3 linked regions of the Homo sapiens genome follow. Changing the gene in region 1 together with any one later gene gives a genetic interaction. Each region holds a gene or a part of one and is shown on either strand. Other genes may lie near its edges.

Region 1 (3,500 bases):
AAGGGCTTCCACACCCCATCTCCTCCTTCCCTACCCTCAACACCTAGTGGGGGCACTGTCACCATGCATACTCATTGCACATCCCTTTCATGTTTCTCTAACTCATCACTCTAACCTACTTCTTGAGTTTGTGTGGTCCTTGATGGAGGTGCCTATAATGGCCTAGCATAGCACATTGTAGGTATTCAGGCAATGACAGATGAGTGGGTGGATGGATGAACAAATAGATGGATGGATGGATGGATAGATATATGGAGGGTGGATGGGTGGGTGGGTCAATGGATGAATAGAGGATGGATAGGCGGGTGAACAGATAAATGACTGGATGTCGAGTGGATAAATGGATGGGTAGATGGATGGGTGGATGGATGGATGGGTGGATATATGGAGAATGGATGGGTGTGTGGGCCAATGGATGAATAGAGGGTGGATAGGTGGGTGAACAGATAAATGACTGGATGGTGAGTGGATAAATGGATGGGTAGATGGATGGGTGGATGGATGGGTGGGTGGATATATGGAGGGTGGATGGATGGATGGTTGGATATATGGAGGGTGGATGGGTGGGTGGGTCAATGGATTAATAGATGGGTGGATAGGTGGATGAACAAAAGATGACTGGGTGGTGAGTGGATATATGGATGGGTAGATGGGTGGATGGATGGATGGATGGATGGATGAATGGATGGTTGGATAAATGGATGGATGGACAGATGGATGGATTTGTGAGTGGATGAATGGATGGGTAGAAAGGTGGATGGATGGATGAATGAGGTATCCTCCTCACATCCATCCCTCTCAAATATTTCTCTAACAATTCTCAAACATTCCTCCTACACCCATTGTCCCCTCTGGGCACTATTATGGTTCACTCTTGTAACTCAACCCACTAGCCTTCAATACTCCTCACATCCCTTCCTACATTTCTTCACATACGCTTTCCACGCTTATTCCACCCTCCTTTCACATATATCCCATTATAATCCGTTCCTCCCACATGACCCCAAAGGCCCATTGCACAACACACTTCTCATTCACAAACTCTGCACACCTTGTATGCACTTACCATACCTTCCACATTGCAAACACTGAAAAACATTGTCCACAACTTTCCCACACCCGATTCTCCTTGCATGCTTACTGCACACTCCATAGACATCATTCCCTCACCCTTCACTAATCCCAACCCATCTCACTCTGCACACTCACCCTGAACCCCTTGCATACTCAGCACATAATGATCTTTATTTCTTACACACTCCATTCCACCCCTGCCCTTTTTACACCCCCTTTCTGTGCACCCCATACTTCTCATCTGCCCTTCTAACATCTTTTGCATGCTCACTGCACACTTCTCTCACACTGCAATTACATCCTTAAAATTCCTTGCTCACTCCTTGTATCTAAGACTTCACGAATACTCTTCCCACTTCACACACCCCCAACTTTTCCAGCAGCCATCCAACCCTGTATATGCTTACCATGCCCCTTTGGATATTTATTTCACCCTCATTCCTGGCTTTATGGAAACCATTGTGGCCGGGTGCAATGGCTCACGCCTGTAATCCCAGTACTTTGGGAGGCCTGAGACAGGTGGATCACCTGAGGTCAGGAGTTCAAGACCAGCCTGGCCAACATTGGCGAAAACCCATCTCTACTAAAAATACAAAAATTAGCTGGGCCTGGTGGTGCGAGCCTGTAATCCCAGCTGCTCGGGAGGCTGAGGCACAAGAATTGCTTGAACCTGGGAGGCGGAGGTTACAGTGAGCCAAGATCATGCCACTATACTCCAGCCTGGGCAACACAGCAAGACTCTGTCTCAAAAAAAAAAAAAAAAGAAAGAAAGAAAGAAAAAAAGAAAGAAAAGAAAAAGAAAAGAAAAAAAAATTAGCCAGGTGGCACAGACCTGCAGTCCCAGCTACTCAGGAGACATGGTGAAACCCTGTCTCTACCAAAAAAAGAATACAAAAATTAGCTGGGCATGGTGGTGCACACCTGTAATCCCAGCTACTTAGAAGCTGAGGCAGGAGATTTGCTTGAAACTGGGAGGCAGAGGTTGCAATGAGCTGAGACCGGGCCACTGCACTCCAGCCTGGGTGAAAGAGTGAGACCCTGTCTCAAAAAACAAACAAACAAAAAAAGAGACAAAGAAAACCCTTTTGTAGTCATTGCATTCTCTTCAAAAGATGTTCCTTAGTCCGCCCTCCTTGCACACGCTTCATGCACCATCCTACACTGCAAGGATCTTCTTCCCCACTCACCTGCTTATCTACACTCTAGTCCACCCTTCTTGCACAATCATCACATTTCTCACACTAACCTATGCTGCTTGAGATTTCTCCACACCCATCTCATGTTCATCTAGCCCTCTTGGCACACTCATAACGCGTTCCACACATCTCTCCCTCCCATTCCACACTCACTGCACACTCCTCAAATATCCATTCCACTCTTCTGTTTTTTTGGATCTTGGTGGCATAATATTTGGTAGCTTAAAGTAAGGAAAACTGCAAACGCCCAAACAGAGACTTGAACCCTGAACCCTCAGGTTAAAAGTCTGATGCTCTACCACCTGAACTATCCTGGCACTCTCTTTTTTTTTTTTTTTTTTTTTTTTTTGAGATGGAGTCTTGCTCTGTCACCCAGGATGGAGTGCAGTGGCCCAGTCTCGGCTCACTGAAACCTCCACCTCCCAGGTTCAAGCAATTCTCCTGCCTCAGCTCCCGAGTAGCTGGGATTGCAGGTGTGCACCACCACCCCAGCTAATTTTTGTATATATTTTGTTTAAGTAGAGACAGGGTTTCATCATGTCGGCCGGGCTGGTCTTGAACTCCTTGCCTCAAGTAACCCACCCGCCTTGGCCTCCCAAAGTGCTGGGATAACAGGCATGAGCCACCACACCTGGCCTCCATCCCACTCTTAACTCACCCATCCTACAACTTTCACACACTTCTGCTTTAACCTGCACTTGTATCACATCCATTGCATGCCCTGTCCAGCCCAGCCCATTCAGATATGTGAATGCATCCATCACACACCTCATCAAGTATGTGCACATCTTTGCCGAGGCCTTCTGCCTCCCTCCCACATCACCCCTTTGGGTCCCAGAGAGCTGGATCCAAGGCTTCATCCATGACCTGTTCCTCATACCCCCTGATAGTGAAGGAACCTTCAACTCCTGCCTTCTCGTGGCCCTGGTGGTATGTACTGCTAGGAGCAGTCGTGGCCGCTGCCTGTGTCCTCATCTTGGCTCTCTTCCTTGTCCACCGGCGAAAGAAGGAGACCCGTTATGGGTGAGTTGGAACCACATGGGGAGGCTGTGTGGCCTGGGATGGAGAGGCTGGAGGCAGGGAGGCCAGTGAGGAGGCTGGTGCAGGAGGAGTGATGACTAAGAATCAGAATGAGGGCAAGGGAAGCCAGGCGTGGTGGCTCACGCCTGTAATCCCAGCACTTTGGGAGGCTGAAGCAGGTGGATCACTTGAGGTCAGGAGTTTGAGACC
Region 2 (3,500 bases), on another chromosome or scaffold:
TGGGCCAGTCTTGTGCTTTCCAGTCCAGAGGCTAGAGCTGGGAGAATGCCTTGGGAGGAGGAAGAGTTCTGATGAAGGCTGCAGCTACTCTCTCCCTGCCTGGCCAGGCTCCTGAAGGGGGCCAAGTACTTCCAGCCTGGAGTTTGTGGGTGGAAGAAAGAAGATGGCCATGTGGGACAGGAACTGCTTTACCCCCTCACTCTGCTGAGTCTGGAGGTTGGTGCTTGCTCACCACTTGGGGCAGGTCATCTTCCCTCTCTGGGCCTCAGTTTCTACATAAGTAACAGGGTGGAATGTAGGTTGGGCTAGATTCCCTCTAAGGGCCTTTTTAGCTCTAAATTTCTCTGAATCTATTTGCATCCACAGGAAGTTACATAAACACATACACTCATACATGGATCAAAGTCTTTGTTTACCTCCAGGGTTCCTAGCTCTTTCCTGTTCAGCAAAAGAAATTTGGCTCAGGATGGATGAAGGGGGAAATAGGCAAATACTACTTCTCCAGGTAACCAGTAGCCGAGCAGCCTCCGCCAGCTGTCTTTTGTGCCAGCTTGGCTGTTGAAGCCCAAGTAACTGGCAGAGACTCCTGCCATGCCATTCTCCTTCAAACCTCTGTCATCTGCTTGCCCACAAATGTCCTCGTCCCATTCTCCATGCAAGCATTGGTCCTCTGGCAAATTCACACCAACATAATTCCAAACTGCACATCTATTTCCACATTCTCTCATCAGTAAATTGCTTTGTCACTTTGCCAATGACTTAGCAGCAATAGGGCTCCCCAGCTACCTATTGCTTCCCTCATCATCCCTCGCCCTCTAGAGTTCCTTTGGAGGGTTCAGAATGAATCAAGGGTCCAGTGGAGATCCTATTTCCTTTATCATCCCCTCCATGTCTGGAGAATAGAATGGTATCAGGATGCTCTTTAGGGGCACAATTAGGAAGACTTTTCCTCCTCTCTCCTCACACCTTTCTGGCCTCAGAACCAGTCCTCTCTTTCAGGTCTTCCCTCCATCCCTGAGAGACCCTGGTAGTATCAAAGTCTCTAAGGTATGGTGGAAAGAGATAAGGAGTCACACTAGTAGTTGTGGGAAGCAGGCTGGCTCCTGTAAGCTGTCTGTAGGGTAATGAAAGGAGGACTTTGCCCACAGTAGGGGCTCTACACATGATGGTTGGCTGGTTCCTAGGATGGGTGAAAGAACATAAAGGCCACAAGTTCTGTGGGTCCCAGAGGCCTGCTGCTCCAACATTGTGCCAGGAAGATTCTTCTGAACACAAGAGCTCTAAGGCTGTTCGCTGTTTTCCAAAGAAATGTCTGACTCTTTTTGCCACAGAGCCCCTGGCAGCCGAGAGGACGGGTATTACCATCGAGGAATGAAATCAGGCATCTCTGGGTTTCTCCCCGGAACTCTCAAGGATTTCAGTTCCCAATTACCACTTTTATTGGTTCTCTCTAGACCTCAAATTCCACACAATGCTGTGGTGTAATGGAACAGCTTTGGAGTCAGACCTGGCTGAAGCTCCAGGTCTGCGGCTTAAACTGGTCAAAACACTCTGAGAGTGCTACCTCTCTGAGCCTCATCTAAACAATGATGTTTGTCATATTATCAGCCTTGCCTTCTTCAAAGGAGATAATACAAGAGAAATTATTTTCCAAACATGAAGGAGTGGTTCTTGTTGGTTTCTGCTACAACTGCGGACTGTCCGAGGCACTTTATAGGAGTTAGGGCCAGACACATGCCTGGAGTTCACCTCACCTTGGGTTGCAAGGCTGTCATTAGCAACCAGACAACGGAGGCCTAGCCCATCACGTCTCACCCTGACCCTTGAAGGGCCAAGCAGTGTGGTTGCTTAGAAAGGGAAGGCACAGCTGAGAAATAAGTACCCGCTGTTCTTGGTGAATTTCAGCTGCCTGAAGGAAATTATTCCCCATCTCCTGAAAAGGAAACACATTTCAGGAACAAGAGGAGCAGACTGTACAAGGCTGGCCTTCCCAGGTTTGGGCTGGATCTAGCACCCAGAAACCAGGCTGAGCCCAGGCACTTTGAAGTAAGGCTCTCGAGGGTCCTACCATATGATCTGTTGGGAAGCTTGGGGTTTAGGGGAAGGTGAATTTGGACCTGAACTAGGGGGCAGATCCCTGCTCAGTGCCTAGACACTGGCTTCTCCTGAGCCTGGCTTTAGGGGAGCAGCATGAGCACCTGCGGTGACAATGCTCTGCTGTGGCTTTTTGAAGCCAGAGTGAAGAAAGACTGGGTTAGTACAGCATCAGCTGCTGGCCTTTCAGATAAGGCCTGGCCTAACGTCCACTTGGGTTGCAGCAAACTTGAACAAAATCCCTCTGTCCTATCCTCACCCCTTGCCCTTTCTAGGCCAGGTAAAAAGGCTCTGCCTTGCTAATGCCCAGGAGCAGTCTAGGATTTGGGAATTTAGAAGGCTGTGGTGAGGGCTAAGAGTCACAGGTACTAGAAATTGAAGGGACTTCTGGAGGTCATCCCGTCCAACCCTTCGTCCCCAGACAGAATTTGATTAGGAATGGATGAAAAACATTTGTACTGCTTAATAAATGGAAAATTCTGTTTGTGCCCAGGTAAGCTAAAGAATATCCCAGACTCACATGACCACAGGTCCCAGGTTAGGCACCTGTCTCAGACAGAGGTAGGCTCCATGGAGAAAGAAGACAGGAGTTCTAGTCAGGCTGGGAATGGGGGCAACTAGAAGGTGACCCCAGGGAATTTTCTGAGTGTGGAGCACAGCTGTAAATAAAATGAGAGTCATGTGACCCAAGTACGGATTCAGGGTCTTAGGCGGGCAGGTTTGTGGCCATTCCCTGTGATTGTTCCAAAGCACAGCAAACTTCCCAAAGCCCAGCAAGCTGCCACGGTGTGGCTGTCAGCTGGAGTGGGAAGAGCACTCCAACCCTCCTGCAGGCCACAGTATAGAGCAGAAAGAACATTCCCACTGCCAAGGATGCTCCTTGGCAGGTTTCTCTTATGGTCTCTGCCAAAAGCACCTGCCTTTTCCCTCTCTGGCCTTCTTCTTAGGCTGCAATGCTCCCTTCCCACTCCACCCCAGCCACTACCCTACCCAAGAGAGGAGCAGCAGCCCCCTTGGGGTCAGATGTCCACCCCCAGAGTCTGGAGTGCACCTTTGCTTTCTCTGGCCTGCTGCCCTGGATCCTCATTTTAGTGCAACAAACAATAGATCTGACAACAGGGACCTCGGGGTTGAAGAGTCATGCCATAAGTCAGTCAACATGGAACCAAAGAAGGTTCTGCTTCATGTAAACCCTGGGGCTCCATCAACTGTCCTGTTAACTCAAGGTCATTCTGGAAAGTCAAGCAGGCCTTGTCACCCTGGAGTCACTGGGGAATAAATAACACTGGGGCATTTCTCTGCGGCTGCAACACCAATACACCTCACTCCACAGCAGCACTTAGAGGTTCTGGGAGTCCTGGCTCCCAAACCCAGGGAAGGGGCACGGACAGAGGCAAAATGGGGGG
Region 3 (3,500 bases), on another chromosome or scaffold:
TGCTGCTAGGATCTTCTCAAAATAAACTACCAGCATGCAATTCCTCATCTCAGGTTCTGCTCTCTAGGGGTAGCCTAGCTTAGATAGCTGGGAAGGCGGAAGAATGCTCTTCCTCACTGCTCCTTTCCCTGCTCTTTCCTGGAAGGCAAGTATAATAACTGTGGCTGTCACTGTCATTTCCTATGTTCCAGGCACTGTGAAAAGCCCTTGACTTGCATCATTTTGTGTCTTCCTCTCAAAGTCCCATGCAGTATAGGCTGCTGTTACTTCCATTTTGCAAAGAAACGAAGGCTCAGAGAAGTCAAGCAACCTAGTCAAAGCTGCACAGTGACAGACAAGGATTAAGATCAGCTCTGACTCCAAAGCCCATGGTCTTAAACAACCCTTCTGCCTACAGGTGAACATCAAGTTGGTGCTATGGCAAGGCTGGGAAACTGCAGCCTGACTTGGGCTGCCCTGATCATCCTGCTGCTCCCCGGAAGTGAGTATGGCCAAGGATGAGGGTGCAGTGGGGAGGGGAAGCTACAAGGAGAGATATTGGGAATTTCCTTGCACTGCCACATGGCTCCTGGGATTCCCAGAGAATCCCACAAGATTCAAGTCTGAGCCACAGATGTGGGGTAGCTGGTCTCCCACCCACAGACTTCCACAGGCAAACCACCACCCAAGAGGAATGGTGAGACGACCCGGGCTGGTCATCCTGGAAAAGGCCAGTGAGGCGCAGATCTTGTCCGCAAATCTCTACCAAGCTGTCAGAAGCAACCCATGGGTCCTATGCAGCCTTGGTGGGCAGCAAAGGGATCAGGATGGAAGCTACAAGGGGACAGGTTTCATCCTGAAATAAAGAAGCCCAGGCAGAGCTTGGTTTCCAACCATGGAAACTCTGTCTTGAGAGGTAGAGAACTTCCCATCCCCAGGGGTATGCAAGCTAAAGCCAGGATTGATAAAGATGCTGTGCAGCAGGGGTTGGCAAACTTTTTCTGACAGTAATGTTTAGGCTTTGCAGGCCACATACTGTCTCTGTTCCTTGTTTGTTTGTTTGTTTGTTTGTTTGTTCGTTTGTGAGACAGGGTCTCCCTCTGTTGCCCAGGCTGGAGTGCAGTGGCACAATCGCAGCTCACTGCAGCCTCAACCTCCTGGGCTCAAGTGATCCTCCCGCCTCAGCCTCCAAGGTAGTGCAGGGCATGCCACCACACCCAGCTAATTTTTTTTTGTTGTTGTATTTTTTTGTAGAGATGTAGTTTTGCCATGTTGCCCAGGCTGGTCTCAAACTCCTGGGTTCCAGCAATCCACCTGCCCTGACCTCCCAAAGTATGGGGATTACAAGCATGACCCGCCACGCCCTGCCTATTGCATGTTTTTTGGTTTTTGTTTTTTTGTTTTTTGAGATGGAGTCTCACTCTCTTGCCCAGGCTGAAGTACAGTAGCGGGATCTCAGCTCACTGCAACCTCCGCCTGCCGGGTTCAAGCGATTCTCCTGCCTCAGCCTCCCGAATAGCTGGGATTACAGGCACCTGCCACCAGGCCCTGCAAATTTTTGTATTTTTACTAGAGATGGGGTTTCACCATGTTGGCCAGGCTGGTCTCAAACTCCTGACGTCAGGTGATCCACTCACCTCGGCCTCCCAAAGTGCTGGGATTACAGGCATGAACCACCGCGCCCAGCCCTGTGGCATGTTTTTATTTGGTTTTTGCTTTGCTTGTTTTTAACTCTTTTAAAATGTAAGAAACATCTTTAGTTGTTAGGCTATACAAAAATAGGCCACTCAAGCCCTGCTGTAGAGGGCAGAGCATCAGGTAGAGTTTTGAAGCAAACAACCTTGTAAAGTTTCTTCCAGCCTGAAATCCTGAGTCTGGGCCGGGCGCGGTGGCTCACGCCTGTAATCCCAGCACTTTGGGAGGCCTAGGCGGGTGGATCACAAGGTCAGGAGATCGAGACCATCCTGGTGAACACAGTGAAACCCTGTATCTACTAAAAATACAAAAAATTAGCCGGGCATGGTGCCGGGTGCCTGTAGTCCTAGCTACTCGGGAGGCTGAGGCAGGACAATGGCGTGAGCCCAGCAGGCGGCGCTTGCAGTAAGCCGAGATCACGCCACTGCACTCCAGCCTGGGCAGCAGAGTGACTCCGTCTCAAAAAAAAAAAAGAAATCCTGAGCCTGTGAAGCAGTAGAAGCCCTTTGTTGAGAATCATGAACTTGCTCTGTGACCCTGGGCAAACTGCTTCTCCTCTTAGGGCCTTCGCATCCCCATCAGTAAAACGGGCCTAAGAACACCTGAGAGAGGACAGAAAGCATTGCGGGCAAAGTGTATGTTGATTTGTTTGTTTATTTATTTATCAAAAAAAATTCATCGGCCGGGCGCAGTGGCTCATGCCTGTCATCCTAGCACTTTGGGAGGCTGAGGCGGGTGGATCACGAGGTCAGGAGATCGAGACCAGCCTGCCAGCATGGTGAAAACCCATCTCTACTAAAAATACAAAAAAAAATTAGCCGGGCATGGTGGTGCGTGCCTGTAGCCCCAGCTTTTCGGGAGGCTGAGGCAGGAGAATCGCTTGAACCTGGGAGGCGGAGGTTGCAGTGAGCCGAGATTGTGCCACAGCACTCCAGCCTGGGTGACAGAGCGAAACTCCTTCTCAAAATAATAATAATAATAAATATTCACCAAGGTCCTACTCTGTACTAGGCACTGGGAATACAGTAATAAGCAAACAGCCAAGGTCTGCTGGCCTCACAGAATTTATAGTCTAGCTGGAGTGATAGATAAGTAAATAATCATAAGACTCTATAATTATGAAGGATAATAAGAGCTTTGAGGAAGTACAGGGACCTTGGCCTCCTCCAGTTCGTTAGTGCCTGGTCTGGTTTCTTCAAGATGCCTAAGCGTTAACCAGGTGAAACAGGGGTGGGAGAGAGAAAGAAGAGTCCCTCCAAAAAGAACAGCATGCCGGGCACAGTGGTTCACATCTGTAGTCCCAGCACTTTGGGAGGCTGAAGCAGGAGGATTGCTTGAGCCCAGGAGCTCAAGATTAGCCTAGGCAACATAGTGAAACCCCATCTCTACCAAAAAAAAAAAAAATCAAAAAATTAGCAAGGTGTGCTGGCATGAACCTGTAGTCCCAGCTACTCAGGAGGCTGAGGTGGGAAGATCACTTGAGCCTAGGAGGTCAAGGGTGCACTGAGCCGTGATCGTGCCACTGCACTCCAGCCTGAGTGACAGAGCAAGAACTTGAAGAAAAAAAAGAAAAGAAAAAGAAAACCAAAACAAAACAACAACAACAAAAAAAAAAAAACAGCAGGGACAAAGATCCAGAGATTAGAAAGATTTTGGAGTTTTCAAAGAATAGCAAGAATGAGCCAGAATAGCTGGAGCTGAGAGACCGGTATAAGCTGGAACTGAGAGGGTCAGGCAGGGGCCAGGCCACAGGAGCTATTGAAGGATTTGAGTGTTTATCCTAATGATGGCAGCAAATACTCACATGCCAGACACTGCTCTAAATG

What was found.
Region 2: changes in AXL (region 1) and EDA together harm fitness less than expected from each alone (positive genetic interaction), as found in Homo sapiens cells (one large-scale study listed by BioGRID).
Region 3: changes in AXL (region 1) and CSF3R together harm fitness more than expected from each alone (negative genetic interaction), as found in Homo sapiens cells (one large-scale study listed by BioGRID).

Annotation. Positions count from the first base shown.
Region 1 is NC_000019.10:41,239,723-41,243,222, forward strand, and holds part of AXL (tyrosine-protein kinase receptor UFO isoform 1 precursor), read left to right. Parts: intron 1-3,160; coding exon 3,161-3,293; intron 3,294-3,500. UniProt on the Homo sapiens protein: Receptor tyrosine kinase that transduces signals from the extracellular matrix into the cytoplasm by binding growth factor GAS6 and which is thus regulating many physiological processes including cell survival, cell proliferation, migration and differentiation.
Region 2 is NC_000023.11:70,035,613-70,039,112, reverse strand, and holds part of EDA (ectodysplasin-A), read right to left. Parts: 3' UTR 1-3,500. UniProt on the Homo sapiens protein: Cytokine which is involved in epithelial-mesenchymal signaling during morphogenesis of ectodermal organs. Functions as a ligand activating the DEATH-domain containing receptors EDAR and EDA2R. May also play a role in cell adhesion.
Region 3 is NC_000001.11:36,476,414-36,479,913, reverse strand, and holds part of CSF3R (granulocyte colony-stimulating factor receptor isoform a precursor), read left to right. Parts: intron 1-397; 5' UTR 398-417; coding exon 418-481; intron 482-3,500. UniProt on the Homo sapiens protein: Receptor for granulocyte colony-stimulating factor (CSF3), essential for granulocytic maturation. Plays a crucial role in the proliferation, differentiation and survival of cells along the neutrophilic lineage.